3 separate regions of the Homo sapiens genome follow, and regions 2 and 3 are each linked to region 1. Evidence: fine-mapped expression QTL. A gene starts in region 1. Each other region holds a variant in brackets. All regions are shown on one strand. Distances are from middle to middle.

Region 1 (10,323 bases):
GGCCACAGGAGGACCCCAGAGGCCAGGGTAGGTTCCTCCCCACTGGGCAGTGGGAGCCAGGCTGGTGGGGGATGGCTCTGGACACTGTCGGAGGTGGTGGGAGGGTTGGGGTGGAGGCCTGAAATTAAACCACGTGGAAGGGGGCTGTGAGAACATGAGGAGGCAGGTGGACTTGGGGAAGAGCGCAAGGAGGGCCAGTCCAGGCTCTCACTAGACCCTACTTCTCCAAGGGGACTGAGGTTGGGGTCTTCCCGAGGTAGAGAAGTGACCATAGGTAGACTGTGGACAGTGATCATCGATGTTGCTGGCAGTGGAGCTCCTCTGCTCTGACATTCTCTGTGTCCAGCACCTGCTTCAGGCCCCGCCCTGGGGGAGTGGGAGTCGCATGACAGTCCTAGCCTTGGGTTTGACTTTGGCCCCATCCACTTAGAGGCCATGGGAGAGGTAATTCTGAAAGCGCTTGTCCTTTGTGGTTGCCTGTCGTATCCTACTTGCCAGTGTCAACTTCTAATGCAGGGGTGTCGTCCCTTGGGACAGGCTGGGACGGGGACAACAAGATGTGGTCAAGACCACACAAGACTGTGGGACATGCTCAGGCTGGAGTGTGGCTGGGCCATCCAGCAGAGCCTCCTATTTCTCCCGGGCTAGAGAATGACCACAGGGTGCGGCGACCCCGGCACTGTTGAAAGCTGGGTGCTGGCTGGACACAGGGGGCCTCTGATGGACAGAGCACAATGAACGAGTTGCCCAGCAGGGTAGGGAGCTCAGGAGTGGCTGAGAGGCTGGCCACCTGCCCTCTGCAGCCTCCCACAACCCCCACTGGCAGCCTTGTGGGGCTGGAGAGGTCTGCCCAGACCCTCAGTCCCAACTGCAGATAAAGCCTGCGCTCCTCTACAGGGGTACCTCGGCATGCTTCTTGGTCCTGTCCTCTCCCTGCCCTTTCCCGACCCCAGCACCGCACTTGGGGGCGTCCCTTCTGAGGCAGCGGCTTCCTCACTCACCTTTCAGCTCTGGCCCCTGCCCCTCCAGGTCTCTCCCAGCCCCAGCCCAAGCCCCAGCCCCAGCCTGGGCCTGAGGTCATGGTCTGGACTGGGCACGTTGGGATGTGTTTTCCCAAGCAAACGAGGAATCATTGCACAATCTGAGTGGGAAACCAGTGGAGGGGAGCCCAGGACTAGTCAGTTGAGGCAAAGACATTCACTTTGGCATCTGCATTAATATAGTGATTTATTGCTCCTTTAGCAATGTCGGTTATGAAGTTCAAGGGGAGAGAGAAGAAATTGATGAAAACAGCGGCTCATCCGGGACCGTCTTCCTTCTCTGGTTTGTGCCTTGACTTCTTCAGAGCTTGGGCCTGAAGGCGTGAGCTCCATCTCATTCGCCGCTGGCACACTGGGCCACAAACGGCTCACTAGGTGCGCATCTCTGGAGGCTGCTGGGGGGCCCTTCCTCTTTCTCCCTGGTCGACGGCTTGCTGGGGAAGCCTAGGATGTCCGACTGCCTGGACATTTGCATTGCCAACCCCTCAGGTTTTGTCTCAGGCTGTCCCTCGGGCTGTGTCTGTTCCCCAGGCTCCAGCTTGGTGGCAGACCTCTTGGCAGAGCCAGGTTCAGGGGTCCACAAGAGTTCAGTTCCCTGGGAGCTTTCCCCCTCCTTGTTGAAGACCATAGAGGGCAGTCCCTGTGCCTTGGGCTGCACCCAGCATTGGCTGAGGGTGTCATGGATGTGCAGCCGCTGGCTGACGTCGGGCTGCAGCATGCAGTAGATGAGGTCCTTGCACTCGTCTGTCAGGTTCTTGGAGTGTGGGAAGTCCACGCGGTGCTCCTTCTGGATACGCAGCATCTTCCTGATGTTGGAGTCGTAAGGCATGGAGCTGCAGACCATGATGTAGAGGATCATGCCCAGGCTCCAGATGTCATACACCATGGGCTGGTAGGGGATGCCCTGCAGCAGCTCGGGGGCTGCATATGCCACCAACCCGCAGAAGTTCTTGCTTAATCTCTGTTGGCCACTGTCATCCCGCAGGCAGAGCTTGGAGAACCTGAAGTAGAACAGCTTGATGTTGAAGTCCTTGTCGAGGAGAAGGTTCTAACACTTGAGGTTCTGGTGCATGATGTCCAGGTCGTGGCAGTATTTAATGGCTGAGGAGAGTTGGTGGAACATCTTGCACGCCATGTCCTTGGGCAGGGCTCCCTGGCACTCAATGAACTAGTTTTTTTTCTGCCCCTGGCTGGGCTCCCAGGGCAGATCTGGGGCTGGGGGCTAAAGGCGGGGACTGGATGCCACCCTGAGCACTGGTGGCTGCTCTGAGGACAGTACAAGCAGCAGGGGCAGCACTGGAGAGTGTGGCCATTGTTTTTTCTGGCAGTGGAGCCCCTCTGCTGTGCCAGGCTCTGTGTCCAGCACTTGTTCCGGGCTATGCCCTAGGGGAGTAGGAGTCACATGACTATCCTAGCCTTGGATTTGACTTTGGCCTCATCCACCTAGAGGGAGTGAGCACCCCTTTCTCACAGGAGCCAAGTGGAACCCTGGGCCCCTCAGGATGACTTGGTAGGGCGGGCTGGTTGTCACTCATGTTGGGTTGGGTCCCCACCTGCCGTGGCCCTTCCCCCTTTTCTCTGCTCCTTCACCTTCTTCCCTAACGCTGACTGCCCACTGCCAGGCCTTTGTGCATTCTTGGTTCTCCTCCTTCCAGACAGCCTCCTTCTCCTTCCCGCTGGGGACACCCCAACTACTGTCTCCTGGAAACCAAAAATAAAACTCTAACCCCCCAGCCATCTGAATGGACCCCTCCTCTCCACCAAGGGCATTCCAAACTTAACCTGAAAAACTATTTCAGGCCGTGATAGGAAGTGGGAGTCAGGCCTCATTATCCCTCCTCCCTTCAGGTTTCAGGCACAGCTAAGCAGTGTAACATCGACACAGAGACTTGAAGACTGACAACAGACTCTGTGGCAGTAAGATACCAGCATGACAGCAGGCCCGGAAGGAAACACATATTTTACTGCAAAACAGGTTTCTTTCACATATTTTGAAGTCGCTCTGCAAAGCTGTTTTTTGTGGGGAAAATCTACATTCTGTAGAGAATCCCTATCCCTTTCAAGGTCTTTTCTCCTGAGAGAATTAACTAGAGTCTGGCACCTTTTATTTATTTTTCCTTTTTTTTTTCCTTTTTTTTTTTTTTTTTTTTGAGACAGAGTCTTACTCTGTTGCCCAGGCTGGAGTGCAGTGGCATGATCTTGGCTCACTGCAACCTCTGCCTCCCCGGTTCAAGCGATTCTCCTGCCATCAGCCTCCTGAGTAGCTGGGATTACAGGCGTGTGCCACCACGCCTGGGTAACTTTTGTATTTTTAGTAGAGATGTGGTTTCACCATGTTGGCCAGGCTGATCTTGAACTCCTGACCTCAGGTGATCCGCCCGCCTTGGCCTCCCAAAGTGCTGGGATGACAGGCGTGAGCCACCACACCCGGCAGAGTCTGGCACTTTTTAATAAGAAACATTAACAGTCTTTTCTCTGTGAAGCCTGATACCTGGAGGCTTCATTTGCCTAAGAAACTTGGTCTCCACAACCCCTTAATGTAGACAGTCCCTTTTATTGATTCCAGGTCTTTAGATAAACTCTTTGAACCAACTGCCAATCCGCATGACCTAGAAGCCCCCCTCCACCCCCCACTTTCAAGTTGTCCCGCCTTTTCCGACTGAACCAATGTATATCTTACATGTGCTGATTGATGTCTTGTCTCCCTAAAATGTATAAAACCAAGCTGTGGCCCTACCCCCTTGGGCACTTGTCAGGATCTCCTGGGGCTGTGTCCCAGGCTATTGGTCACATATTGGCTCAGAAGAAATGTCTTCAAATATTTTACAGAGTTGGACTCTTCGCCGACACTGCCCTCCAAGGTTCACCCTGTTGGTGATGACGGGAGAAGTGGCACTTGGAGCACTGTTCGCAGGGGCGCTGAGCCTCCTCTCTGCCTAGCTTTCTTTCCTGCACATGTGGCCTTCCCCTAGCCATTGTGTAGGCAGGTCCTCCAGGGAGCCGGCTTCGCTGCAGTCTCCAGGACCTGGCCTTCCCGGTCTCTCTTTGCCTGACACTCTCTTAGGCCATTCCTGTTCCTCTTTCCCCACCCTCAGAACCGGCAGGCCCTCCCTCCTCCACAGCGGTTCGGCCTTAAAAAGACCCCTTTGGGGCGCACTTTTGGGCTGCTCACGGGACCTGAGCTTGCAGGTGTGAAGACCCTTGGAGTCCCAGCCAGGTTCCCACTTCGTTCTCTCCGCTCCCCACCCGCGCGACCCCTCGGCGCCCCGCCCCATGCCCCGCGCCTTTCGATGTCCATCCTTGCCGTCCCGCGCCCGCCGTCCCTAACCGGCGTCCAGAGACCCTACTCCCTTCGGTGGCCCCGCCGCTCAGGCCCCGGCCCCGGCCCTGCCTCTCTGCTTAACCAATGGCACGCCTCACTCCGTATGGTCCCGCCCTTCCCTTAGAGCCCGCCCCTCAGTCCCCGCCCTTAGGTCCCCGCCCTCCGCCGTCGCGACCTTAGGCCTCACCCTCTTCGGAGGGCTTTGGCTCTGGCCCCGCCCCCCATCTTGACGGTCATTGGCCCGCGCCTGCGTCGCGGGCGGGAGGCGGGGCGGGGCGGCGCGGCGCGGAGCCGAGCAGGACGGCCGCCATCTTGCGCGCAGCTGGAGTCGGTGCCTGAGGTTGCAGCCGAGAGTGTGCGCCAGCCCGCGGCCCAGCCGAAGCTCTTTCCCGCCGCCTCTCCGCGCCTCGCCCAGGTTCAGCTCCGCCTGACCCTCCGCTTGGCACGGTCCCCTGACCCTCAGTCCGGCCTGGTCCGGCCTTCCAGCCGCCCCGGGGACGATGAACGGAGGATAAATGGTGCCCAAGGCAGACAGCGGCGCCTTCCTGCTGCTCTTCCTGCTCGTGCTCACTGTCACCGAGCCGCTGCGGCCAGGTGCGCCGCGCGATGGGGGCGGTGTGGGGGCTGGGCGGCGAGCGGGGCCGGGGTCGCCCCGGGACCTCCTTTCACCCGCGGCGCCCTCCTGCAGGGGCCGCGCCTGGGGCAGGGGCGGGCGGGGCCTGGCTCGCGGGCCGCCTGGCACTCTCTGCGGACGCCTGCTGGAGCTTACCTGGGCTCGCGGCGCCTCGGACTTCGTGCAGCTCTGCTGTCCAGGATGTTGCCTCTGGGCCCTTCCCGGGAGCGGCGGCGGCCAGGAGCTACGCCACGGGCGCACCCTCTCGCCAGTCCAGCGTCGGAGTCGGGCTGGGGACAGTGGCTCTCAGGGGCACCTGGTTTCACAGACGTCCTCCCAGCAGTGGCCTAGTGCCAGCCTCTCAGTCCTGGAAACTCCTCGCCTGGACAGCGGTGGTTGTGGCTGTCATTCAGTGAGACGTTGCGCTAAGGAAGTCCTCAGGTCCCACCGGGCCTAGAGGAGGCACCAGGAGTCAGCCTAGCGTTGTGTGGCCGGCGCGAGCGTCCCGGGAGCAGAGACCTCGCCACTGTGCGGGGCCCTTAGCCGTGCTGCGTGTATGTGATGAATGAGTCCGTGCTTTGGAACTCCCCTCGGAGCTAGTGTGTTCTTAAGTCTGTGGTGGGGAATCAGAACCGTGGCAACCAGGAGACCCTTTTCTACCTATTTCGGTGTACCTCCCCTTGAACTGCACCAAAAAATCAAACTCCCTAAATGCAGGGCCGATGTATCCATCAGGCACAGGAATCCTGGTATCACTTGCCCACGGTACTTTTAGTAGCCTTCGAATGTTATTTTATTTTTTTTTAAAGTCAGCAGAAAAAAAATGAACTTTTAGGTCAAATAAAATGTTTTCGTATGTATATTAATACAGTCATCTTTATACTAATACAGTGAAAAAGCATGACTCTTAATATTTCTTAATGGAGGAAAGGTCCCATGAAGGCAGAAGTGCCAGGGCCATCTTCTCTGATGACCTGGGTGTGGGAGCACGGGGTGTGTGGCCCTCTCCTGTGCCCTAGCCAGGCTCCCAGCCCAGATACACCGCACCTCTTGGCTCTGCGCTTGTGTCATCTATGTGGAATGTCTGCCTCCTCCCTAGTGCCTGCCTGGTGGCCAAGGCCCTGACCGGTGCTCAACCTGGACAGATTCAGTGATGCTTCTCTGGTCTCCCCATGTAGAGCTAGTTGCTCACTGCTTTTGGCTGCTCTCTGGGCAGCGGGATGACTAGTTGTGGGGTGGCCTTGGTAAGAACAGAAGCCAGGAAAAGGGCTACCTGTGGAGGAGGGTATCATATAGGCTCTTGGAGGTCAGAACCAATGGGTTTGTGGATTCTTGTGATTAACTTCTTTAGAAAACATATATGTACGTGTAGAGAGGTAGAAGGTCACCGTTTTCTGATTCTTGAGTCCCAGTTTTGCAGATGAGGTCACCGGGCTCAGGTGAGGCCATATTATGCCTGGCTTCTTTGGGGTGCCTCTGGTTCCAGGCCCAGCATCTCCTGCCTGGGTGATAGAGGTGACTGACGTCCCCGACTCCTTTTTCCTTGCCAGCCTTTTCACATAGCCTGCCAACTGGCCAGCAGCAACTGAGAAAGTGCCTGTGGGTGCTTGCCCCCTGCCCATCCCTAGGGAATCCAAGTGACAAGAACAAGCCCCTCCTTTTAGGAGTGCCTGATGTGGAACAGAGGCCAGGTGTAAGTCACTTGTCACACTCCTGTGTGTTGAATACCCTGGAGTGTGGGGTCCCAGAGGTGGGTGGAGGTGGCCATCTTTTTGTACCTGTGAAGCAGTGAGGGCGTCACAGGAGACCTCACACTGAGGTCGGAGTAGGGCATGGGTGGGGTGGATCTGGTAGAGGGAGCAAACTTATTCTTTCGATTCCATGACTCTCCAGATGAGAACATTGCAGCTACCCCTGGAGGCGTCTTGAGTTGCCCTGCAGAACCCGGGAGCTGCAGCTGGCTTCCTGGCTTTGGCTGGGCAGGGAGGGCAGGCCTCTGGGCCTGATGTGTTCCTTGTATGCCCGTGTGTGCCTCTTCACACATTCACCATGTGTCCTTCCTGAGAGTGCTGCAGGGATCTGCCTGGCTGGTGCTTGCAAGAGGCTGGGGCTTCTCTGGTCTTAGTCTGCGTTCTTTCTGTGGGGATTCCGGCCTTAAAAGCATACTTGAGTATGAGGAAGGTATCAGTCAGAGCCCACTTCTCAGGAGGGTGTTTTCTGACTCCTGCCTGGTGGGGTCCCTGAAGATGATGCCAAGCCACCTGGGCTTCCTCTCTGGTACAGGGCAGGGTGGAAGGCCTTTCATGGAGTTATGGGGCAGCAAGTGCTTGCTGTACTTGACCTTTCACCAATTTTTTTTTTTTTTTTTTTTTTGAGACAGAGTCCTGCTCTGTTGCTCAGGCTGGAGTGCAGTAGCGTGATCTTGGCCCACTGCAACCTCCACCTCCTTGGTTCAAGCGATTCTCCTGCCTCAGCCTCCCGAGTAGCTGGGATTACAGGCATACGCCTCCACGCTCGGCTAATTTTTGTATTTTTAGTAGAGATGGGGTTTTGCCATGTTGGCCGGGCTGGTCTGGAACTCCTGACCTCTGGTGAGCCACCTGCCTTGGCCTCCCAAAGTGCTGGAATTACAGGCCTGAGGTACCATGCCCAGCAATTTTTTTTTAAGTGCACATTTGAACTTGATTTAAGATGTGTCATGTGCCGGACACTGTTCTAAGCACTAACATATGTTAACTCTCAAGAGGTCCCTGCTAGATGCTGTTTTTAGCCTCATTTAAAGATGGGGAAGCTGAAATCCAGAGCACTCATGAAGCTAAGGCTGAGATGAGATTTCATCGTAGGAGTCTGGCCTTCCCCCCATCATGCACCCGTGACTGGGGTCTGTGCACTCCAACTGTGTGTCTCCAGCCCAGCCACAGGAGTACCTCATATTATGCTCTGAACAGCTTCCTTAACCCCAGGTGGAGCCACAGACTGCCTCTGTCCCCTGTTAGGTCCCAGGGTCCTCTAGGTGAGGGTGCAGAATCTTTTTCCATGTGGATACTCCAGTCTGAGGGACAGAACCACTCACCCTCTGCCAAATCCCTTCTGTGTTTGGCCATGTGACCACTGATGATGTGTGTTATGATCACTGGGGGTGTGATGAGGAAGAACGGTTGGAGACTACTGCTGAGGTAACTGACAGCGAGATGGTGGGGGGATTTGGGGACCACTGATTGTGATACTGTCTCATTGGCCCTTTCTCCATCTGTGTAGAGAAGGCAGCATCGACTGCTGATTCTAAAACTGTTTTTCTTTCTAGCTTTAATTGTGAAACAAAATTATATCATGAGCCACAGCTCTATCCAGGTTGAACCCACCATACATAGCTGAGAAAAAATTGCCTTCTGAATGCTGGTGCACCCTGGTCCCTTCCTGCTGGTTGTTGGTCCTGTACAGGGCCTGTGCTCAGCTAGGCCCCTTGGTAAGGTAGAGGACTAGAAGGTCGTCTTCCTTCTATTGTTGGTACAGCTAGCTGGGAGAGGCAAGTGACTTGTCTAAGGTCACACAGCTGGTGAGCAGCAGAGCGTGGGTTCAGACCCAGGTGGAGCTGGCTGCTAGCTCAGGGTTCTTTCTCTTTTGCTTTCAGTAGGCAGCTGTGCTGAGCTGATCACATCTCAGGGAGCTGAGAAGTGAACACAGCACCTTGGCTCTGGAGTCCAGAGTTGTTTTTTTTTTTTTTTTTTTTTTTTGTTTGCGATGGAGTTTCTGTCTGTCACCCAGGCTGGAGTGCAGTTGCGGGATCTCAGCTCACTGTAACCTCCACCTCCTGGGTTCAAGTAATTCTCCTGTGTCAGCCTCCAGAGTAACTTTGATTACGGCGCACGCCACCATGCTGGGATAATTTTGTATTTTTAGTAGAGACGGGGTTTCACCATGTTGGCCATGTAGGCTGGTCTCAAACTCCTGGGCTCAAGTGATCCACCTGCTTTGGCCTCCCAAAGTTACGGGATTGCAGGTGTGAGCCACCTCTCCCCGGCTGGAGTCCAGAGTTTTCTTTCATGTGAAGTAGCACAGGGGTTTGGTGCATAGGGAGAGAGTGCATATTTTCATCACAAGGAAAAGTGACCGAGGTTCAGAAGTAGCTGGAGAGGTGAGCTTGCACCTAGCCTTGCCAAATCCTCCTGAGTTTGGAGTGCTTTCCTCTGTAGCCAGTACTGTGACACTTTGTAGAGTTTGTCCACTGGTAGATTTGGCTTTTGGGTTAACAGGTTCATTTTTTTTAGTTGGAAAGTGATGTAATATACTTTCTACCTTCACTAGCTAATGAATTTTCCTTTTTTTTCTTGACAAAAAGAAAACTTTTATTTGGAAATAATTTCAAACTCCCGGAAAAGTTGCAAGAGTAAAGTGAGTGCAGAGAACACCTGCATATCCTTTGCTGAGGCTTCCCTACTGTTGGCATTTTACCTTATTTGCCTTATCCCTCATCTTCCATGTGTATGTGCATATCTGTGTACTCACACACATTGCTTTTTTCTGAACCATTTGAGAATAAGTTGTATGCGCCATGGCCGTTTATCCTTGTACATGTTAACCATTGCAGAGAGTAGAGGCTGCTCCCACTTAACCCCACCCCATCGTTCTCACTAACACCTGCTATGTGCCAAGCCCTGTGTCACGTGGGAAGGTCTCATGGGTGCAGGAAGCCCTGTAGTTAAAGCCCAGGTTGGCCCAGGTGGAGGCAAGCTGGCATCACTGCATGTCAGGGTTATTGTTTTAGTTGGCGGTTCTGGGTTTAGGAATGAAGACTGCTGTTGTGGAAGATTTGTGCTGTGTTAGGCTGCGCCTTCGCTGCTCCACTTCCCAAGCTAGCTTGTGGGCACTTTCCCCACCCCTTCCTTCCCACTTCCCAGAGTACTGAGTGATTATATCCTCTTAGCAGCGGTGGCCGGTGATTTGTTTGTGCAGGTGTCCTTCTAGCAGTGACGGCAGGTAATCTTGTTACGCACAGATCCTCTTAGCAGTAATGGGAGGTGAGTGATCTGTGTGTGTCCTCTTAGCAGTAAGGGCAGGTGATCTAGCTGTGCACGTGTCCTCTTAGCCATGGTGGGAGGTGATCTGGTTGTGCAGGTGTCCTCTTAGCAGTGATGGGAGGTGATGGGAGGTGATCTCATTATGCATGTTTCCTCTTAGCAGTAGTGGCAGGTGATCCGGTTGTGTGCATGTCCTCTCAGCAGTGATGACAGGTGATCTAGTAGTGCATGCATCCTCTCAACACTGATGGCAGGTGATCTAGTTATTGACTCTCTCCTGCTGGACCTGAGCCTTTGACAGGCAGGGAGTTCCTCTGCCTCTCTTGGTTG
Region 2 (10,323 bases), 91 kb after region 1:
TCAGAGCCCAGGTGCCCTCTGACCTGCCATGCGGAGGTGGGATTTGATACTGTACATTGTCTTGATGCCTGTTTTTTTATGTTTTCATTAAGGGTTTTTAGTTTTTGGTTGGGTTGACACTAACTTTTCTTAAGATGCTGTGAGAATCATTTCATCCAAATGCCAAATAAACTTGTGTTCCGGAAGAGGCATGGTTAGTCCTTGGTGTGGCCCCCACGGCTGCCACAGGCTAAGGTGGAAGAGGCTGGGTACCCACCTTTCAGCAGAATGCACCTAGGGTTTGCAGCCCTTGCAGGCGTCCATCAAACCCCCTGAGGACCAGGCAGAGCTGAGCCTGGAGCCCCTAGGTGGAGTGTGCAGGGAGAGCAGCAGCCCTGAGCTGCCTACAGCTATCCTGCAGCACCCAGCCCTGCTTGGGGCATCGGCTGCTGCCTTGGCAGGTGTTGCTGACGTGCACAGGATCCACATAAAGGCAAGGCTGCTTGACACCATCTGGGAGCTAGCATGGGACGGGGTGGTAGGGCAGGGCTTGGAACCTGGCCGTCAGCGCCATTTCCTCTAAGCTCCCCTCATCATCCGGGTGGCTGGAAACAGCCCCTCCCTCCAGTCCAAGCCACCTAATGTTACAAAGTAGCCTAGGTCCTCTGGGGCCTCTTCACTCATGTCCAGCAGTGCCATCTCTAGGTCTCAGAGGGTAGTGGGCCCAGGAAGTGTGATTGCATGCCCTGCTCTGGGGGCACTCCAGATGTGTATACTGGGGGGACGTCCTGCGGCCGGACACGAGAGGAGTCAGGGTTAGGAAAGGAACTGGTAAGTCCCTTGGCAGGGATGGGAGCCTCGAGGATGTGGCCCCTCATTTTTTATCCCATCTGCTGGGGCAGGAGTGGAGTGGTGGTGTTGAGTCCCGAGCACACAGGTCACTGTCAGCACTCTGGACAGAGCCCCGAGCCCTGCCTCTGGGTAGGGGCTGTCTTCCCATCCCCAATGTGGGTAGGGCCCTGCCCTCTGGCGATTGGAAAGAGGCGCAGGGTGCAAAGAAGTCCCCTCCTCTGACCTCCTGCAGGGCTCCGTCTTGGCCTGGATCCGCAGGGGGGCCTGGGTAGGAGGGAGGCTGTGGTCTTGGGATGGGGTGGCAGTTCCGGGCCCACAGTGGGGCAAGAGACATCCTACACCTTCCTCCCATCCTTGCCCCGAAAGTCATGGGCACTGGGGTCCAAGGTGCCCTCACTATTTGACCTTTCTTGCTGGTGGCTTTGGTGTGTCATTCTGGTCCCCAGCCTCTGTTTCCTGGACTGTAAGTGGGGATAATAATAGGTCACCCCTCCCCTGCAGGATTAACCTCAGCGATTGTTGCTGGCATCAGTGCAGCCCTGGGACCAGAGCACACCTGGGTGAGTTTGGAGCGCTCGCGCTCTTCCTGGTGGCCCTGCCTGGGCACCGACCCCTCCCATCCTCTCCTCAGTAGCCACGCCCCTAGCCCAGCTAGCTAATGAATAAATATGTAGTAGCCAGGCCAGCATCCTGGCTGCGTGGTCTAGCCACTTTCTAGTCCTTCCTAGCTGCGGCTGCCACTGAGCCACGCACGCCCCTGGCATCATGCTCGCCTTGCGGTGCAGCTGGTGTGGCGCAGACTCTGAGAGTGAGCACCAGGACTCTTCCTGTCTGGCCTCCAATCTACCCTCTTGCCATGCTCCACCACCCCTTAGGTCTTGCCACTGGGAGTGGGGAGGGACTGGGGAGAGAAAATACTGAGGTAGGGGTGACAGGAGAGAAGGTTCTTCACTGGCCTCCCCTGGCCTAAACCCCTGACCTACTTCATTCTTGGACCCCAGCTGATGGGATGGGGCTTGGAGAGGGCCCAGATGACTGGCCTCTCAGCTCAGCCTCCTGCCCACTGTCTCTATAGGTGCCTGGTGCTATGACTCCCAGGACCTCAAGTATGGTGAGGACAGAGTGTCATGTGAGGCTGTGTCAGATCAGTCTGTGTCCTGGGACCACCAGAGCATGTGCCAGTGGTGCAAGAGTGGCCAAGAGACAGTCTGCACCCTGCACTCTGTGGCCTTTGCAGGTTTCTGTCTGTAGTCGTCTGCCCCAGTAGACTGACTGGGCATCAGGTGCAAGTGCGTGACTGTCCCCCTGTGTGTGAGTCTGGGCCTGCTGTGATTGCCGGTCCCGAGTCAGTCAAGGCTGGTGTGCCCGTTACTGTGGCCAGCCCAAGTGTGTGCAGGTGATAGAGGTCCCAGTGTGGGTGTGCAACTGTGTGCCGGAGACCCTTCCACCTTCATCTCACCATGGGGCAGCCAACTGGGAGACTAGATGGATAGGTCAGATGCAGGGTACAAGAGAAGGGGGGTGCTGTGACCTGTTCAGGTGTGGGGGAAGCAGGGAGCTAGGTTTCCTGAGGCTGGGCTATCCTCTGGGTGTATGGGGGCCACTCTCTGCTGCACCCCCAGGCTGCCTCCCTGACCCCCCCCCCACCCCAAAGGCCCCAGTCCTTGTTCCAGCAGTCCCCACCCACTGGAAGAAGCTGGCCCCCTGCCTGTGGGGGCCCAGGCCAGTCCCTCATCAACATTGACTTTCACAGGGTCCGGCGGAACTCTACCCTAGGGCCCTTCATCTTCCGAGGCTATGACTCAGCACCTCCAGGCCCTTGGACCCTGGAGAATGACAGCCACACAAGTCAGCACCCTGTGGTCAGGACCCCTCCTAGGCAGAGGCAGGAGCCCCACACAGGGCATGAGAGCTCCTGCGTGTACACAGGGACCAGGACCCCCTACACACGGGAGCTGAGACAACCTACAGGGCCAAAAACCCTCCACAGGGGCTAGCTTCAGAGGAAAGGAGCATCCTCACACAGCAGTCCAGATGCACCCTCTGTGTAGGTGCCAGGTCCCACCTTACAAATCACAACCAGCCATGGCCCCTGAGGACCAGGAGTCAGGGTCTCTGGCAGGGCCAGGATCCCTGACCACACACAGCTGGGCTTAGAGCCCCACACCAGGAGGGCTGCCCTCTGCCCTCTTCCATGCCATGCTGGGTGTGGGGGGGGGAAGGGTTTCCCCTGCAGTCTGTGGAGCTCTGCTCTGCTGACCAGCAGGAGCCATGGACACCATGGGTTCCATTCCATGGAGGCAATGGGGCCGCACTGGGGAGAAACCTGGCCTGAGGAAGGGCCTCTGCTCATACCCTGTGCCCTAATGGCACAAGATGGACAGGTGGTGAGGTAGAGAGGGTGTCGTGTGCCTCCTCCCCTTCATTGCTACTCTGAATGGACACTGATCCTCAGAACCACCTGGAGATTTGGGAGGCTGGGCTGCTGTTGCCTGTCTACCGCGCACTGCAGCTGCACTTCAACTGCCGGCGGTGGGGGGGCCCGAGGCGAGCAGACTCGGAGCACAGCCTGGACAGGCAGCGCCAGGCTATGGAGGTAGACTCGGGAACAAGGTGGGGTGGCCGGAGTGCTCCCACGGAGGTGAGAGAGAGCAAGGTGAGGGCAGCTGGGTATCTCCCACATCTGTGCCTCCCCCCAGATGCACGTGGTCCACAGTAACACAAAGTACCAGAGCATGGAGGAGGCACCACGCCACGGTGATGGGCTCGAGTGCAGGCCCTGCTGCTGGAGGTGCTGCTGGCGGTGAAGGCAGGGCTGTGATTCTATGTATGTTTCCAAAAAAGGGGTCCATGGGGATCCTGGAAGTGGACAGGCCAGGCCTGTGGAGTCCGTGGGGGGATCTCTAGGGTCTATAGGATCTGTGGGAGGATGGGGCGGTGGGAATGCCTGAATCGGCAGGGCCAGTGGCGGCGAGAACCCTCCACCCCATTTCCCAGATGCCAGATGCCTCCTGCCACTGGGAGCCTCCTGCTTAGAGTACCCCAGCTGAGTTCCCTCTTCAGAGACTCCCTCACTCAGAACCCCTCGCACTTGGAGCCCCTCCCAGGAGCAGGACTGTAGCAACACCAACTTCTGCGCCATAGTGTCGGGCTTGAGGAAGGTGCCTGAGCCAGGTGAGGAGCCACCGGGTCGTTTTCCGGCTCAGGGGCGGGGGGTTTGCTGGGGATGGCACCAGCAGGGCACAGGGAGGCTGGTTCCAATCCCCCTCCCTCTGCCGCCCGGGGCTCTCAGTGAATCTGATGTCCACCTTCCCGCTGGCGTCGATGCGGCCCAACACCTCGAGCTACTGTCGCTTCGCTGGGTCGCTGACCCCGCCTGACTGCGAGCCCACGGTGCTCTGGACCGTCTTCGAGGACCCCATACCCATCCGGTGGGTGCAGGTGGAGCCACCGTCCCCCCTCGCCCCCCACACCCCTCCCCGGGCCTTGCCTGGCTCCTCCCGCAGGCGCTGCCCCTCTCCCACCCCGTTTTGATCTCTTTGCCCTGCACCCTCAGATGACCCTGTTCTACACCCTGCCCCAGGCTGGACCCTCCCACTTTCACCCCATACCGCTCACGGGTAACTTCCGCCCCCAGCAGCCTCTTTTTTTTTTTTTTTTTTTTGAGACGGAGGCTCACTCTGTCGCCCAGGCTGGAGTGCAGTGGTGGAATCTCAGCTCACTGCAAGCTCTGCCTCCCAGGTTCATGCCATTCTCCTGCCGCAGCCTCCTGAATAGCTGGGACTACAGGTGCCCGCCACCAGGCCCGGCTAATTTTTTGTATTTTTAGTAGAGACGGGGTTTCACCGTGTTGGCCAGGATGGTCTCGATCTCCTGACCTCCTGATCCGCCTGCCTCGGACTCCCAAAGTGCTGGGATTACAGGCTTGAGCCACCGTGCCCGGCCCACAGCAGCCTCTTAAGGGGCACGCAGTCTTGGCCTCTCCGAGAGCCTCGGTCCCCGCAGCAGCCCCCTGCTCTTCCCCCACCCTAGCAGTTGTGCACTGCGCTCTGATGGGCCTGGGGCTCAGCCTGTGGTTCTGTCAACCGTGGGCGACCCTCCATGTGAAATAATGAAATAATGCACAGAGTGACCTTAGCCTAATGTAGCCTGGAGGGGGTGGGTGCGTGACCCGGCGTGGTCCCCCATTGCAAGAGGGGCATTTCCTGCCCTAATCCCACTGAGGCCTCAGTGTGCCTGTCTGTTCCGTGGGAGCCCTCTGAGTGACCCTCTCCTACCTCAGCAGAACCCGGGCCTCTCCAGGTTCCTCTCAGAGGGAGAAGGGCCCCCACCCTCATCCTATACATTGTGTCTGAATCCCCTGGTCAGATGGAAGGAGAACATCTAGCAGTCAGAAATTCCACCATTAGGCCAAGATTACATTATTTTATTTTAAAACTAAGCTGGGTGGCCAACCCAGGGACACCGTGCTCTGCTAAATGATGACTCCAGCTACATTTCCCGAGGCCAAGAGATGAGAAGCTGCTGGCTCCAAGCTCCGCTGCAGGCTGCCCTGGCTGAGCGGGTGCTAGGCACCGCGGAGCGCTGCCTGGTGCTCTGAAGCCATGCCCCAGTGCCTCCCTGGGAGTTCTGCTGTGGAGTCTGTGTGGAGG[C/G]TGACTCTGGAGAGATGTTTGTGTCCAGGTGGCTGCCTGTGGTCTGGCTAAGTAAAGGGGTGAGTATTCTTGGTGTCACTGTCCAAAGCAAAGTTGTGTCCATGGGACACAGACTAGGTGAGGCTCTGTGTCCAGGTGATGCTGTCCAGTGAGAGGGGGTTGCAGTCAGAGTGAGGCTGACCGGAGGCCTCTGTCCAGTTGGTGCCCTGTGGAATGTGATTACATACTGGTTGACACCATCCTGAGGACCATCACCAGCTGAGTGTCTCAGCCGCCCTGTGTCCCTGGGTTCTGTGCTCTTGTGTGTGGTTTGACACTATTCCAGTGCGTGGAGACCCTGCCTCCTCACTGAGACCTTGCAAGAAAAAGAACCTGCAGTCACCCCAAGGAAGAGGAGTCTCGGCTGTTCCCTGGAGGCTGACCCAGCCCTGGCCCAAAGGCTGACCCAGACCCAAGGCCCAAAGGCCCACCCAGACCCAAGGCCCAAAGGCCCAGCTCTAAGGTCCAAAGGGGCTCCACCCTGTTCTCTAGCCGGACTCAGTCTCTGGCAAGGACCCCGGCTGCCAGCTGCACTCCCTAGACGCACGTGGCCCACCCCCTCCTTCCAGTACCGGAGCCCTAACTGGCGGCACCCGGGCACCCTTTTGACTCAGAGCCACGCTCCACGAGGGGGACCGATCTGCTCACTTGCCCCGTCCTGGGGGTACCAGAGTAGCCAGCGCGACGCCTTCCGCACCTCGCCTAGGCTGCCCTTGTGCGGCCGCCCTCAGTCCCCGCCACCTTGCGGGGCCCCAGGCGGCACTGGCATCTTCTTGTGGTTCTTCCTGGCCGGGGCTCGGTGCGCTCCGCATTCTGCTGGGCCGTCCGGGGCGTCGTCTGCGGGCCTGGAGGCGGCGACCAGGGCGCTCACGGTGCCGAGCGTCCGCGGCAGGGTCGGGCCGCGGGGCGCGGCGCGGGGGACGGCGCGGGGCTCGCGGCGGGCAGGCGGGGACGGCGGCGGCGGCAGCAGCGCGCGCAGGGCATCCAGCTCCGCTCGAAGCTCCGCGCGCAGCGCCTCAATCCCGGCGCCCAGCTCCTCGCGCACTGCCGCCAGGCCCTCCTGCAGCCGCCGCTCGCTCACCTCCAGGACCCCCGCCGGGTAGGTGGCCCCGCCGCGGGGCTCCCCGCATACCGAGCACACGGAGCCCGCGGCTGTGCGCGCCGGTCCTCTCGCCCGCGCCCGGCCGCCCCGGCCCCCGCACGCTCCACCAGCTTCAGCAGCCGCGGCACCTCGGACCGCGAAGCCGCTTCGGCCCGGAGCTGGCCGCGCAGGCGAGCCATCCGGCCCGGGGCTCGGGCGTCTTCCTGGCCCGGCCCATTGGATTGCGGCCCCGGATCCCGCCGGCGGCCCGTGCCGCGCCGCAGCACCTCGCTGGCTCTGTACGCACTACGCGCCTGGGCCCACGGGCGGCCGGGCTCCGCCATCCGCCCTGCTGCCTCCACCGCCGCCAGCGCCCGGGATGGCCGGGAGCCCCAGGCTGCAGCCTAGCGACCGCTGGGGCCCAGGCGACGCACCGTGGAGGGGGCCCGCGGGACGGCTGTGGGAACGACCAAAGCCCTGGGGGTTCCGGTCTGGGGCGCAGGGAACCCCGGCAGGGCCGGGTCTCGGGCAGCCCGGTTCCCAGGGGACCCTGCGGGAACGACGACGTTGTGGGCAGGTCCTCACAAAGGGCATGGCCCAGTTTCTGGGCATAGGTGACATGGAGCATCGCCAGCCAAAGACCAGGCACCACCCGCTAGACACGAGTCAGGAACTGAGCTCACATTTTACACTGGAAGCTACTGTCTCCATCATAGTCAAGGGAAAGCCAGGAGTGGTCATGGACCCCACAGCCCTTTTCAATGGCTCAGGGCGACGTCCTTCCATGTAGTCCAGGCCATTATCTCCTCACCCTGTCCCCTAGTCCACACAGCTGGAGGAATCCATCCAGGTGGCATCTCCAGCCCCAGGCTGCTGGCCCTTCCATGGGAGCTCTTCAGGGTCTCCCTTACTCTCCAAGGCGGTCTGCCTAGGGCCTCTGGAAATCCCTGGCCATCTCAAGCTGGGTTTTTTGTTTTGTTTTGTTTTGTTTTTACAAACAGGATCTTGCTGTGTTGCCCAGGCTGGAGTGCAGTGGTGCAATCATAGCTCACTGCAGCCTCCACCTCCTGGGCTCAAGCGATCCTCCCACCTCAGTCTCCTGAGTAGATGGGACTACAACTGTGCACCACCATGCCCGGCTAATTTTTTTTAATTTTTTTTTTTTTTGTAGAGATAGGGTCTCACTGTGTTTCCCAGGTTGGTCTTGAACTCCTGGCCTCAAGTGATCCTCCTGTCTTGGCCTCCCAAAGTGCTGGGATTACAGGCATGAGCCACCATGTCCAAGCCTGTCTGTGTCTTTAACCTCCTCTAATCCAACAGTCTTCTTCATCCTTCTGGGTCTTTGCATAATTCCTCTCCCCCCCCACCCCCGCCATTTTCCTGGTGGCTCTCACTTTTCCCACTTAGATAGGGAAACGTTCCATGACCACCCCATCCCACACTGGGGACCTCGAGCCCCTCCTCCACAGCACCCTTCACAGTTGTATTTAAATGACTGTTTTCCATCCACCCACTGTGGGGTCTCTGAGCCCAGGGCTGGGTCATTTCTCCTGGGCCGAGTGTGGCACTAAGCATACTGAGTGCTAGCCTGCACAGAGGCCAGGCCCGGGTGGGCCCCAGGACAGAGCTGTCAGTGGCTGTCTTGCCATGGAGTGAGTGGATGAATCAGCAGGGCTGGGATCCTCTCCCATTTTACAGTAGGAGGCTGGGGAGAGGAGCTGGCCAGCCCGTCCACCTCTGCAGCCTGGCATCTGAGGCCCTCATGGCATCCCTGCTGGTCTGCCTTCCCCTGCAGCCCTTCCACCCTCTGTGGAGCCCTCACTACTGCACCCTACTCCTTCTCACCCCAGTGCCTCTGCATAAGCAGTGCTGCCTGTGGCCGCCACAGGGCCCTAGGTATGGGCAGAGAGTAGTATCCCCCACACAGCATGCTGTTCTCCCTGTACCCCCAGGGGCTAGTTAGCACTCTGGGTGCCCTGGACTCTGGGGCCTCCCTCAGCAAATTGTGGAGGGTGGCCTGGCATGAATCCAGGCAGATCTGGGAAGGGACATGGCAAGACAGCCCCTGGAAGCTGTGTCCCCGGGTCCACCGGGATCTGGCCCCTGCAGGTCAGTGCATGTGTGCATGTGTTGGGGGGGGGATTGAGGGGACCGCTAATACTGTCCTCAAGCAGCTGCTGAGGAGAAGACTGGGTCCCTCTAGTCATGTTCATCCACTCAATCACTCCCTGCAGCCCGTCTCTCTGGAAGGTGCAGGAGGAGGTGAGAATTGGGCACTCTGTCAACCCCTCAGACTCCCCCATTCCTGCTGAGTCACCCGTCCTCTGGGACCTCCAGCAGCTGGCTGTGCTGATCCCTAGAGCCTCATTAGCCATTCTCTCCCTCCCCCCAGTCATTAAAACACTGCCAACAAGAGCGCCCTGGGTTCTTTTCCCCAGCCCTACTGGAGACGGGCTGTGTGACCCAGGGGCTCTGCCCTCTCTGAGCCAAGTCTTCACCTGTGAAATGAAGAGATCTCTGAGGTCCCCAGGACGGATGACAGGGAGGCCTGGACGGTGAAGAAGGTGCAGGAGAGAGTCCAGATTTGCAGAAAGAGCTGTTAGTTTTGTGATCTCTGCCTGGAGGTTTATGGACAGGTTGGAAGAGAAGCTGAGCCATTGCAATGAGTCCAGATTAGGGCTTGTTCCTGCAGGGGCTACAGATGTGGGGGCTGGCACTTGTGGCAGAGGGTTCCAAAGTCATGGGCATAGAGAAGACAGGTTGGCAGGAGCAAGGGCAGAATGGGAGCGGGGTCCTGGGGGTCCTGTTGGGCCCTGAGGAGGACTGCAGAGGTGTCGGTGAGGGGTGGACAGGCAGGCGTGTCAGCACAACCCTGAGCCCCTGAGCTCAAGTGCAGGGATGGCCGTGAAGCAGGTGATGGGGACCCTGGCTTGAGCTTCATCGGTAGCGGGGCTGGGGTGGACACCGGGGACTGGCGGAGAGGAGATGGGGTGGGGGCTGGTCAAAGCAGTGTGTCCCTCAGGGAACGTGGCAGAGCGGGGCGCGCACACAGGTCTGCTCTCCAGTTCCTCCGGGAAGTTCCTCAAATTCAGCCAGCTCCAGCTGCCCCTGGCACAGAGGAGCTGACTGAGGCTCCAGTGCAGGGCCTGCTCCTTCCCCTCCTGTTCCCCTCAGTGTGCCCTGGGCCGGGGGCCAGGCATGGTGGGGGTGGGGAGGCTGGCTGTGCCTGTGGGAAGCCACCGGCTCCCGGGGCTGTCCCTGGGCCCAGGCTGTAGCTCTGTGCATGCAGACGTGCAGGCTGGGTGGGCAACTGGCCACCTTGCCCGTCAGTAATGCATTCACAGTGGGGGGTCAGAGGAAACCCCAGGGCTCCTCTGCTTAGCTTGGCCAGGGGTCCCGATGGGGCAGTCTCTCCGTGTGACTTAATTGTCATCCCTTTTGTGCTCTATGGCTATTAAATAAAACTTGGCAGCCACCTTGGCTGGAGGTTTTATGTCCCAGAGCCCAAGGGCGGTTGGGAGCCAGGGGAGCGCTCAGACGGCAGGGCCAGGCGAGCTCTGTGTGTGGGAGGGGCTGTGGGGGCCTCTGAGAGCTGCTGCAGGGACCCGGCAGGGCGGGGGTGGAGGCGGAGAGTGTGACTGTAGCTTCACAGTCATCAGAGTGGACGTGGAGATGCAGGCAGAGTCCTCGAAGCTGGCTCAGGGGTCTGTGTGGGGAGGG
Region 3 (10,323 bases), 37 kb after region 1:
TCTTTGTTTTTCTGTGCATGTCTTCTTTTTCTGCCTGCTTTTAGGATTTTATCGCTGATTTTAAGCAATTCAATTCCAATGTGACTTGGAATTGTATTGTTTGTATTTCTGGTGCTTGTGGTTCATTGAGCTACCTGGATTTGTGGGTTTATAGTTTTCATCAAATTGGGAAATTTTCCCCATTGTTTCTTCAGATGTTGTGTCTGTTCCCCCATGTATTAGGGTGTGTGAGGTTGTTCCACAGCTTACTGATGATTTGCACATTTTTTCCTGGTATTTTTTCATTCTGTGTTTTAGTTCAGAGTGTTTCTATTATTATATCTTCAAGTCACTAATCTTTTCTACTACAAAATCTAACCTGTTAATGTTCTGCAGCGTACTTTTCATCTTAAGTGTTACAGTTTTTATCTCTAGGTAATAGGTTCGTAAAGGGCCAGGCATTAAATGTTTTCAGCTTTGCAGGCCATATAGTCTTTTCTGCAGCTACTCAGCTCGGCTGCTGTAGCTTGAAAGCAGCCATAGACAATACATATTTGTGGCTGTGTTCTGATAAAACCTGATTTTAAAAACAGATGGGGGCCAGGCACAGTGGTACATGCCTGTAATCCTGGCACTTCGGGAGGCCGAGGCAGGCAGATCACTTGAGGCCAGGAGTTCAAGACCAGCCTGGCCAACATGGCAAAACCCCGTCTCTACTAAAAATATAAAAATTAGCTAGGCATGATGACACATGCTTGTAATTCCAGCTACTCAGGAGGCTGAGGGACAAGAATTGCTTGAACACGGAAGGTGAAGGTTGCAGTGAGCTGAGACTGCACCACTGGCACTCCAGCCTGGGTGACAGAATGAGACTCTGTCTCAAAAACAAACAAACAAACAAATGGGAAGAGATTGATCCAGCCCATGGGCTATGGTTTGCTGGCCTACTGCCACTTCCTCAATGGCCTCTCACCCTTTGGTCCCACAGAGCTGCGGTGCAACCCTGGGCAGTTTGCGTGTCGCAGCGGCACCATCCAGTGCATCCCCCTCCCCTGGCAGTGTGACGGCTGGGCGACTTGCGAGGATGAGAGCGACGAAGCCAACTGTCCAGGTGAGTGTGTTGAGTAGGCGGGGTACACACCACCTTGTCTCTTTGTTGTAGCTGGGTGACTGTGCCTCTTGTGAGGGGTGGAGGTGTGTGCTGTCTTAACACATTGGAAAGTTAGTTTGAGCCGACCCCTTCCTCTCTCTCTGTCTTTCTGTCTTTTTAAAAAATAAGTGCCCAACCTAGGCAGATCCCAGAACTTGCAAGATGGCAGGGCTGTGGGGAGGCCCGTGAGATGCCCAGGAGGCTCCACTTAAGGAGGCGCTGCACTCCCTGGACTTGGATGATCTTGAGTGTGAACCCCTCCTGAGGGGTGGCACCTTGGCCACCTCTCTGACCTTATCCCCATCCTGGCTCTGGATGTGGGTGCCTCTTGATCCTGAATGTGCTCTTTTAGACTGGCCTTGGCACGCCCTCCCCTCCTGCTCACTCATTCACCTGGAACTTTGCACTCACAGGTTCTCTCCTGGCCATTATGTAGTCTCCTAAAGATGTATGGAAAGGCCACAAAAAGGCTAAATCGGAGAACCAGGTTCTTCACCTGGTTTCTGCCTCAGCACCCTCAAGGAATACAGGGCACCCCATGAATAACAATGTTCACTGGATCCGTTGTTCTCAACTTTGGTTGGGTGGGAGGTGTAGTGAGTACTTGTGCATGTGTGTGTGAATGTGTGAGACATACATATACATGTATCCATGAATTCGTTTTTAAGACTAGGTGGTGCTGATAAAGCCACTAAGGGGAAAGTGTGTCTTACCCCAGCTTGAGAATCACAGGCTTAAATGCTTTGGCCAGACATGCAGACTCCTTCACAAGCTGGTTTAGGTCTGCTTTGCCAACCTGATTTATCACTACTTCCCCTTCAGTGGCTCAGCTGGGCTGTTTCTTGTGCCCACCCCATTAATAATCTTGTAGATGTGTGCTTCCTTTATGTTTTCCTGGAATTCTCTTGTTCTGTTTCTGCATAGACAAGCCTTACCATCCTTCAAGGTGTAGCTCAGATGTTACCCCAGTGGGAGAATGTCTGTGGTCCCTCATTTTATAGATTGGCTTCTTCCAGTCCCCCATTCGTCCCTCTCTTATAGCATCAGAACCATTGGTAATTCTCACCATTCCTGGTGCCCAGGCTTGATTTTTCCATCCAGACCATGAGTTCCCAGGGGGCAGAGACCTTTCTCCTTCCTTAGTGGGACTTGGCCTAGGACATGAAAGGTGTGCTGTAATTCCTATAGGCTTAGTACTGAAGGAAAACCAATTCATTCCAACCAGGGTATTAGGTAGGGGATTAGGTGACATTTGAACTTGTGGTAGTTCTTTGAGGGGGGGTTCCAAAATAAGAAGCAGAGATGGTCTGGTCAGATTGTATTTGCCTGTAAAGAATGCTGTTTAGGCAGGGTGCGAAGGCTCACACCTGTAACCCAACACTTTGGGAGGCTGAGGTGGGTGGATCGCTTTAGGCCAGGAGTTTGAGATCAGCTTGGCCAACATAGTGAAACCCCGTTTCTAATAAAAATACAAAAATTGGCCAGGTGTGGTGCTGCACACCTATAATCCCAGCTACTCAGGAGGCTGAGGCACAAGAATTGCTTGAACCTGGGAGGAGGAGATTGCAGTGAGTCAAGATTGTGCCACTGCACTTTATCCTGGGCTGCAGAACAAGACTCTGTCTCAAAGGCAAAAAAAAAAAAAAAAAAGCCAGGTGCAGTGGCTCATGCCTTATAATCCCAACACTTTTGGAGGCCGAGGCAGGCAGGATCACTTAAGGTCAGGAGTTTCAGACCAGTCTGGCTGACATCGTGAAATCTCATCTCTACTAAAAATACAAAAATTAGCTGGGCGTGGTGGCGAGCACCTGTAATCCCAGCTGAGGCAGGAGAATCACTTGAATCCAGGAGGTAGAGGTTGCAGTGAGCTGAGATCATGCCAGTGCGCTCCAGCCTGGGCGACAGAGTGAGATTCTGTTTCAAAAAAAAAGAAAAGAATGCTGTTTAGAGGGGGCCCCTCCTGATCATCTCTGGAGCCCATTCTTCATCAGATTATGCGTGTCTCTGGTAGAGGTGTTTGCCTTTCCAAATGAGGGTTTGGATGGTGTTGGCCCGGTCAGGAGCCTCTGGGACAGTCCTTTGTCTGGGAGCCTCTCTGGTGGGTCTTTGGGGTCAAAGCCCAGAGAAAGTGGATTCCCAGTGGGCTTCCCAGTGCTTGGGCTGCTGAAGTTCCCTGGTTGGTCAGCCTGGGGACGACCATGTGGTTATGAGTGGGAGCCTCCCCTTGTCTGACTCATAGAGTGAGACCTTATATCCAGCCTCTTGGAGAATTCCTGAAGAGAGAACCAGATGATTCTTGGTTTGCTTTCAAATGGAAGCAGAGTTTATTTGTTGTTCTCAAAGTGCCATTTGGCTTTGCTTTTGTAGTTGTTTGTAATAACTGTCCTGTTACACACGCTGAACATAGTGGTATCCACACTCATAGTTGCCACCTTGTTCATCTTTCCACGCTCTGAAGACTTGTTGAAGGCAAGGAGTAGGTTTTATTTCTCTTGACCACATGGCCTGGCATGGAGCAGGCATCAACTTTGCACTTGAGTATTGGCTTGAAGTTACATTGGTTGCCATATGTTTTCCCTAGACAGAAAAATAAAATCTCTCATAGAAGCCGAAAGTTACGAGTGGTGGCCTGCACCAGGGCTGAGCAGTGAAGGCATGACAATGAGGACCCGTGTGTGCAAGCCCCCTGAGGCTTGGTAGGGCCTAGGAGTGTTCTGGGTGGGCTGAGGAGGCCACTGCCCTGACAAGGCTCACCCTGCTTCTCCTTGACTCACGGTCCTATGATTGTCCTTGTATAGTGCTGTGTCACAGTCTGGAGGGTGAGCAGATTGATTTCTTTTTTTTTTATTTGAGATGGAGTCTCGCTTTGTTGCCCAGGCTGGAGTGCAGTGGCGCCATCTGGGCTCACTGCAAGCTCTGCCTCCCGGGTTCATGCCATTCTCCTGCCTCAGCCTCCTGAGTAGCTGGGATTACAGGCGCCTGCTACCACACCCGGCTAATTTTTTTTGTATTTTTAGTAGAGACAGGGTTTCACCGTGCTAGTCAGGATCGTCTCGATCTCCTGACCTTGTGATCCGCTCTCCTCGGCCTCCCAAAGTGCTGGGATTACAGGCGTGAGTCACTGTGCCCGGCCAAGCAGGTTGATTTCTAATTGTTCTTAAAGTTGAGATTCTGAGCAAATTAAGTCATAAAAATGTACAAAGAATGTGTAATACGTATTTTCTTACTT[C/T]CTTGAATTAATGACTGCTAAATCTTGTGATTTTTTTTCTAGTTTATTTTAAAAGAAATTTTTAAAAAATCATAGATATAGAGTCAAGTCCTCATTGACACTCTCCCTTCCCCCAACCTCCTCCCCTCTCAAAAAAGGAAACTCTTTGTGTTTGTGGGGGAAGTAGAGAGTTAGCTAATAACCACCCTTGCTCAAAAGCTGTGACCTTCCTTTGTATGAGGAGAGTTTCAGTAACCCCTAGGGAAGCCCTGGGCCATTCTCAGTCAAGTTGCTTTTGAACTAGACTTCAGGACTTCTGGAGTTACCTTATGGGGTTACTTCATTGCCCTGCTAAAAGCCTGCTAAAAAGGAGTATAAAAAATGTAAAACCAAAGGGACAAAAAAAGGGGAAAGATGTAACAGTAGATCAGTAATTTCTGCATGTTTTTGAAAAGAGGGAAATGACATGCTAGGTACAGCCTGGGCATTCAGTACCTTCCCACTCACTCCCTTCTGGGCTTGTCCGTGGGTTTCAGAGGCTGGAATGCTGGAGCAGTAGCACTCAGAACCACCTGGCAGCAGGCTTCTGTGTGTCATTTGCCCTATGACATGTGTCTTGGGAAATGTGGCAAGTGGAAGGGAGGTGGAACCTTTCTTCCTCAGGCCATAGTGTATGTTGGGGGTGTGCATGGGCTTAGATTTTTGAGGTGACTTTTTGCAGTGGCTTCTGCCTTCCCCCACTGGCCAGCTGTCTCAGGGCTGCAGAGCAGCTGCAGTATTGGCAGCAGATTTTTGCAGTTTCCTAACCTATAGATGGCAGTAGTAGCTTCCTGACTCTTGACAATGACTGTGGGAATTAGATGGGGAGTTAGCCCACTTTACTTTTGCTCACACTATATAGCCTTGCCAGTTGTTTTGAAAGCACCTATTTTCTGTATTAAACCCTTCGTGTTAGAAATCCCTTAGCATGGTTTCTGTTTTCCCAGTGGAACCATCTTTGTTTTTTTTTTTTTTTCCAAGGCAGGAGAATTTTTCTTAGTACAGAACAAAATGAAAAGTCTCCCATGTCTACTTCTTTCTGCACAGACACAGCAACCATCCGATTTCTCAATCTTTTCCCCACGTTTCCCCCTTTTCTATTCCACAAAACCACCATTGTCATCATGGCCCGTTCTCAATGAGCTGTTGGGTACACCTCCCAGATGGGGTGGTGGCCGGGCAGAGGGGCTCCTCACTTCCCAGAAGGGGCGGCTGGGCAGAGGCGCCCCCCACCTCCCGGACGGGGCGGCTGGCCGGGCGGAGGCGCCCCCCCACCTCCTTCCCGGACGGGGCGGCTGGCCGGGCGGGGGCTGACCCCCCACCTCCCTCCCGGACGGGGCGGCTGGCCGGGCGGGGGCTGACCCCCCACCTCCCTCCCGGACGGGGCAGCTGGCCGGGCGGGGGCTGACCCCCACCTCCCTCCCGGATGGGGTGGCTGCCGGGCGGAGACGCTCCTCACTTCCCAGACGGGGCGGCTGCCGGGCGGAGGGGCTCCTCACTTCTCAGACGGGGTGGCTGCCGGGCGGAGGGGCTCCTCACTTCTCAGACGGGGCGGCTGCCGGGCGGAGGGGCTCCTCACTTCTCAGACGGGGCGGCTCCCGGGCAAAGGGGCCCCTCACTTCTCAGACGGGGCGGCTGCCGGGCGGAGGGGCTCCTCACTTCTCAGACGGGGTGGCCCGGCGGAGACGCTCCTCACCTCCCAGACGGGGTCGTGGCCGGGCAGAGGTGCTCTTCACATCCCAGACGGGGCGGCGGGGCAGAGGCGCTCCCCATATCTCAGATGATGGGCGGCCGGGCAGAGACACTCCTCACTTCCTAGATGGGATGGCGACAGGGAAGAGGCGCTCCTCACTTCCCAGACTGGGCGGCCGGTCAGAGGGGCTCCTCACATCCCAGATGACGGGCGGCCAGGCAGAGACACTCCTCACTTCCCAGACGGGGTGGTGGCCGGGCAGAGGCTGCAATCTCGGCACTTTGGGAGGCCAAGGCAGGCGGCTGGGAGGTGGAGGTTGTAGCGAGCCGAGATCACGCCACTGCACTTCGGCCTGGGCAACATTGAGCACTGAGTGAACGAGACTCCGTCTGCAATCCCGGCACCTCGGGAGGCCGAGGCTGGCGGATCACTCAAGGTTAGGAGCTGGAGACTAGCCCGGCCAACACAGCAAAACCCCGTCTCCACCAAAAAAAATATGAAAACCAGTCAGGCATGGCGGCGCGCGCCTGCAATCGCAGGCACTCGGCAGGCTGAGGCAGGAGAATCAGGCAGGGAGGTTGCAGTGAGCCGAGATGGCAGCAGTACAGTCCAGCTTCAGCTCGGCATCAGAGGGAGACCGTGGAAAGAGAGGGAGAGGGAGACCGTGGGGAGAGGGAGAGGGGGAGGGGGAGGGGGGAGAGGGAGAGGGAGAGGGGAACCATCTTTGATATAAACGAGAATTAACAAAAGATGTGTAAAATTTTTGAGGGAGAAAAATTTGCAGTTTTATTAAGAGACATTAAAGAAGACAAGTAAATAGTGGCAGAATGTTCTTGCCTAGGAAGACCGAATCTTTTAAAAACTCATATTGTTCTGTGGATTCAGTGCATCTTTAAAGCTCCGTGAGTTTTATGTGAAATGCGATAAGTCGATTCTAAAATGTTGAGAAGAATTAAGTCGTAGTATTGAGAGGTCGTTGTGAAGAAGAGGAATGAGGAGGGAGCACTTGCCTTGCCCGTATCAAGATTTACTTCAAAATTGGCTCAGGGAAATCCAAATTGGCCAGTGAGACAGAAGCTGTCAGAAACAGACCTAAGAAGCTTGAATTCCAGAGGTGGAATTACATATCGCTGTGCAAAGGGCAGACTCTTCAAACACAGTGCTGTGACAGTCGGAGAAGGATGCAGTTGGATCCCTAACTCACAACATACAGGAAATTCAGTTTTGGATAAATTATAGGAGACTATCTTTAAGACCTTGATAGGGAAGTGTGCCTTTTTCTTTTTCTTTTTTTTTTTTTTTGAGACAAGGTCTGGCTCTGTCACCCAGGCTGGAGTGCAGTGACACGTTCTTGTATCACTGCAACCTCCGCCTCCTGGGCTCAAGCCATCCTCCTACCTCAGTCTCCGGAGTAGCTAGGACTACAAGCGTGCACCACCATGCCCGGCTAATTGCATGTTTTCGTAGAATCGGTGTTTCGCCACGTTGCCCAGGCTGGTCTCTAACTCACGAGTTTAAGCAGTCTGCCTGCTTCGGCTTCCCAGAGTGCCTGGATTACGGGGGCATGAGCCACTGCGCCCAGCCACCTTTTTCTTTTCTTTCTTTCTTTCTTTTTTTTTCTGTTTTTTTTTGGAGATGGAGTTTCGCTCTGTCACCCAGGCTGGAGGCTGGAGTGCAGTGGTGCGATCTCAGCTCACTGCAACCTCCACCTCCTGGGTTCAAGTGATTCTCCTGCCTCAGCCTCCCGAGTAGCTGGGATTACAGGCATCTGCCACCACGCTCGTCTAATTTTTGTATTTTTAGTAGAGACGGGGTTTTGCCATGTTGGCCGGGCTGGGCTCGAACCCCTGATCTCAGGCGATCTGCCTGCCTCGGCTTCCCAAAGTGCTGGGATTACAGGTGCATGAGCCACCATACCTAGCCTCTGGCCACCTTTTTCTTAATCACATAAAATATTCACTCTAAAATAAAAATGACTGAATTTGCTAGATTAAAATTAAGATCTCTCGTTTATTGAAAGACACCAATAGGCCAGGTGCTTATGCCAGGAATCCCAGCACTTTGGGAGACCAAGGTGGGCAGATTGCCAGAGCCCAAGAGTTCCAGACCAGCCAGGGCAACGTGGTGAAATCCTGTCTCTATGAAAAAAAAAAAAAAAAAAAAAAAGAAATAATTAGCCAGATGTGGTGGTACACACTTGTAGTCCCAGCTTCTCAGTAGGCTAAGGTGGGAAGAATCACCTGAGTCCCTGAGGTCAAGGCTGCAGTGAGCCGAGATTACACCACTGGACATCAGAGTGAGACCCTGTTTCAAAAAAAAAAAAACAAAAAAAACCCCAAAAAACACCAGTAAAGACTGTGAAAAGACAAGCTAGAGTAGAGAGAAGATATTTGCAACACTTACAGCCTGTAAAGGATAAGGATTCTAATTCAGTGTATATAAAGAACTCCTATAAAGCATTTCGTAGATGGTGATTAAACATAGAAAAAGACATTTAAATTTAACCTCGTTAGTATTCTAAGACTACATACAGTGAGATACCACTTTACAGATGCTTAGACTGGCAAAAATTAAAATGTTGGAGAAGATATGGATAGTGTGGAAATTTTATGTGCTTCTTTACACCCACTCTGGAATAGAGACATTATCTTGCAAAGCTGAACATTCTTATTTTCTGTGATCCAGGATTTCTATTTAGGGAAACTCTGGAAAAATCCTTGCAGAATTGTTTGTACAGTTTTTCCAGAGTGGGTGTAAAGGAGCAGATAAAATTCCAAGCCATCCACATCCTCTCCAACTCTTGGTTTTGTCAGACATCTTAATTTTTGCCATTGATACATGTCTTGGAAACAACCCAAATGTCTGTGCTCACATGATGGAATGTTATACACCAGCAACAGTAAGTGAATGTTAGGTTTATGCAGCAACATGGATGAATCTTGAAAACAGAACGTCAGCTAAAAGCAAGTTGCTAAAAACGACATATGGCACAATATAGAGAAGCAAAACAGATCGTTATATTACTTATAGATACATACACATGTGGTAAACTAAAAGAAAAAAATAAGCGCAGTGATACACAAAATTCTAGTTCCTGGTGGAGAGACAGAGGGATATAAGACTGGGAGAAGCAAAATAATGCTTGATTTCCTAAATGGGGTGTGGGGAGGTCGCTCACAACTATATTATTAGGCTTATGAATCTTACATGTGTGCTACATACATTCTTTGAAATGTTTCACATATTATACAGCTTTTTTCCTTTCCAAAGAAAAGCCAATGGGAGAGTTAAACTGACCTGGTGTAGCAGAGCAGCTGCAACCATGGGCCTGCTTGAGTGAGAACAACAAGAAATAAGCAGTTTGCCCAGCAGCCTCCCAGAAAGGCTCAGCGCTTGAAGGCTCTGAGTGCCAAGGGTGGCAGGCATCAGGCATAGGCATGGGAGTGGGATAGGGATTGGTGGAATTCTCTTGGCACTCGCATTCCCTTCTTCACTTTCCATCACTGGGTGACTCTTTCTGCTACCATAAGATGTGGGGTTTCATTTCTTTTTTTTGAGACAGAGTCTTGCTCTGTTGCCCATTGGAGTACAGTGGTGAAACCACAGCTGAATGCAACCTCAAACCCCTGGACTCAAGCGATCCTCCCACCTCAGCCTCCTGAGTAGCTGAGACTACAGGCGTGTACCACCATGCCCAGCTAATTTTTAAATTTTTTGTAGAGACGAGGTCTCGCCCTGTTGCTGAGGCTGGTCTTGAACTCCGGGGCTCTAGCAATCCTGCCCCCAGCCTCCCAAAGTGCTGGGATTACAGGCATGAGCCACTGTGCCCCGCAGGAGTTGATTTTCTAGACCAACACTGTCCAGTGTAGTAGCCATGAGTCACATGTGGCTGTTTTGAAGGAAGATGTGCAGCAGGTGTAAAATACACACCAAATAGGAAAGACCTAGTACAAAAAAAGAATGTAAAACATCCCATGAATACTTCTTTATATTGTTTCCATGTTGCAGTAATAGTATTTTGAATATATTGGGTTAGATAAAGTATTAAAATTAATTTCATGTTTGTTTCTACTTGTTGAAATGTGGTTTGCATTGTGTTTCTATTAGACAGCACTTAAAGTCTGCAAAATAAGTGACACCAGGTACAACAGAGGGGAGTCGTGGAGGTTGAAAATAGAGGAATTAAGAGAAATTCTCTGTAGTGACAAGTAGGTAATAAGTAGGATGCTCAGGCCTGTCTTCTGCCCTGCTCTC

The links. PIP is the estimated chance that this variant, and not a neighbour inherited with it, causes the effect. A credible set is the group of variants that fine-mapping cannot tell apart.
Region 2: its variant is the best candidate, but not a certain one, in a credible set for the expression of DGCR2 in whole blood (INTERVAL, PIP 0.69).
Region 3: its variant is the best candidate, but not a certain one, in a credible set for the expression of DGCR2 in whole blood (INTERVAL, PIP 0.55).

The regions. Positions count from the first base shown.
Region 1 is chr22:19,116,761-19,127,083 of GRCh38, reverse strand. It overlaps DGCR2 (DiGeorge syndrome critical region gene 2), which reads left to right and starts at 4,672. Exons shown (of 10, transcript NM_005137.3): 1 at 4,672-4,956. The coding sequence starts at 4,878. It also overlaps the pseudogene TSSK1A. RefSeq lists silencers at 4,348-4,787, 4,908-5,027 and an enhancer at 4,812-5,313.
Region 2 is chr22:19,026,148-19,036,470 of GRCh38, reverse strand. It overlaps FAM246C (family with sequence similarity 246 member C (gene/pseudogene)), which reads right to left and starts at 6,947. Exons shown (of 3, transcript NM_001396027.1): 1 at 6,707-6,947; 2 at 6,671-6,705; 3 at 6,250-6,669. The coding sequence starts at 6,947. The coding sequence ends at 6,250. DGCR5 (DiGeorge syndrome critical region gene 5) reads right to left here. Exons shown (of 6, transcript NR_110533.2): 6 at 5,229-5,689. It overlaps DGCR2 (DiGeorge syndrome critical region gene 2), which reads left to right. Exons shown (of 10, transcript NM_005137.3): 10 at 1-185. It also overlaps the pseudogene CA15P1. RefSeq lists a silencer at 283-452. The variant C/G (reference allele first, on the strand shown) is at 5,484.
Region 3 is chr22:19,080,135-19,090,457 of GRCh38, reverse strand. It overlaps DGCR2 (DiGeorge syndrome critical region gene 2), which reads left to right. Exons shown (of 10, transcript NM_005137.3): 2 at 968-1,090. Among named protein-coding and RNA genes, the nearest start is that of DGCR11, 37 kb to the right of the region's middle. RefSeq lists enhancers at 3,415-3,914, 3,915-4,416. The variant C/T (reference allele first, on the strand shown) is at 4,359.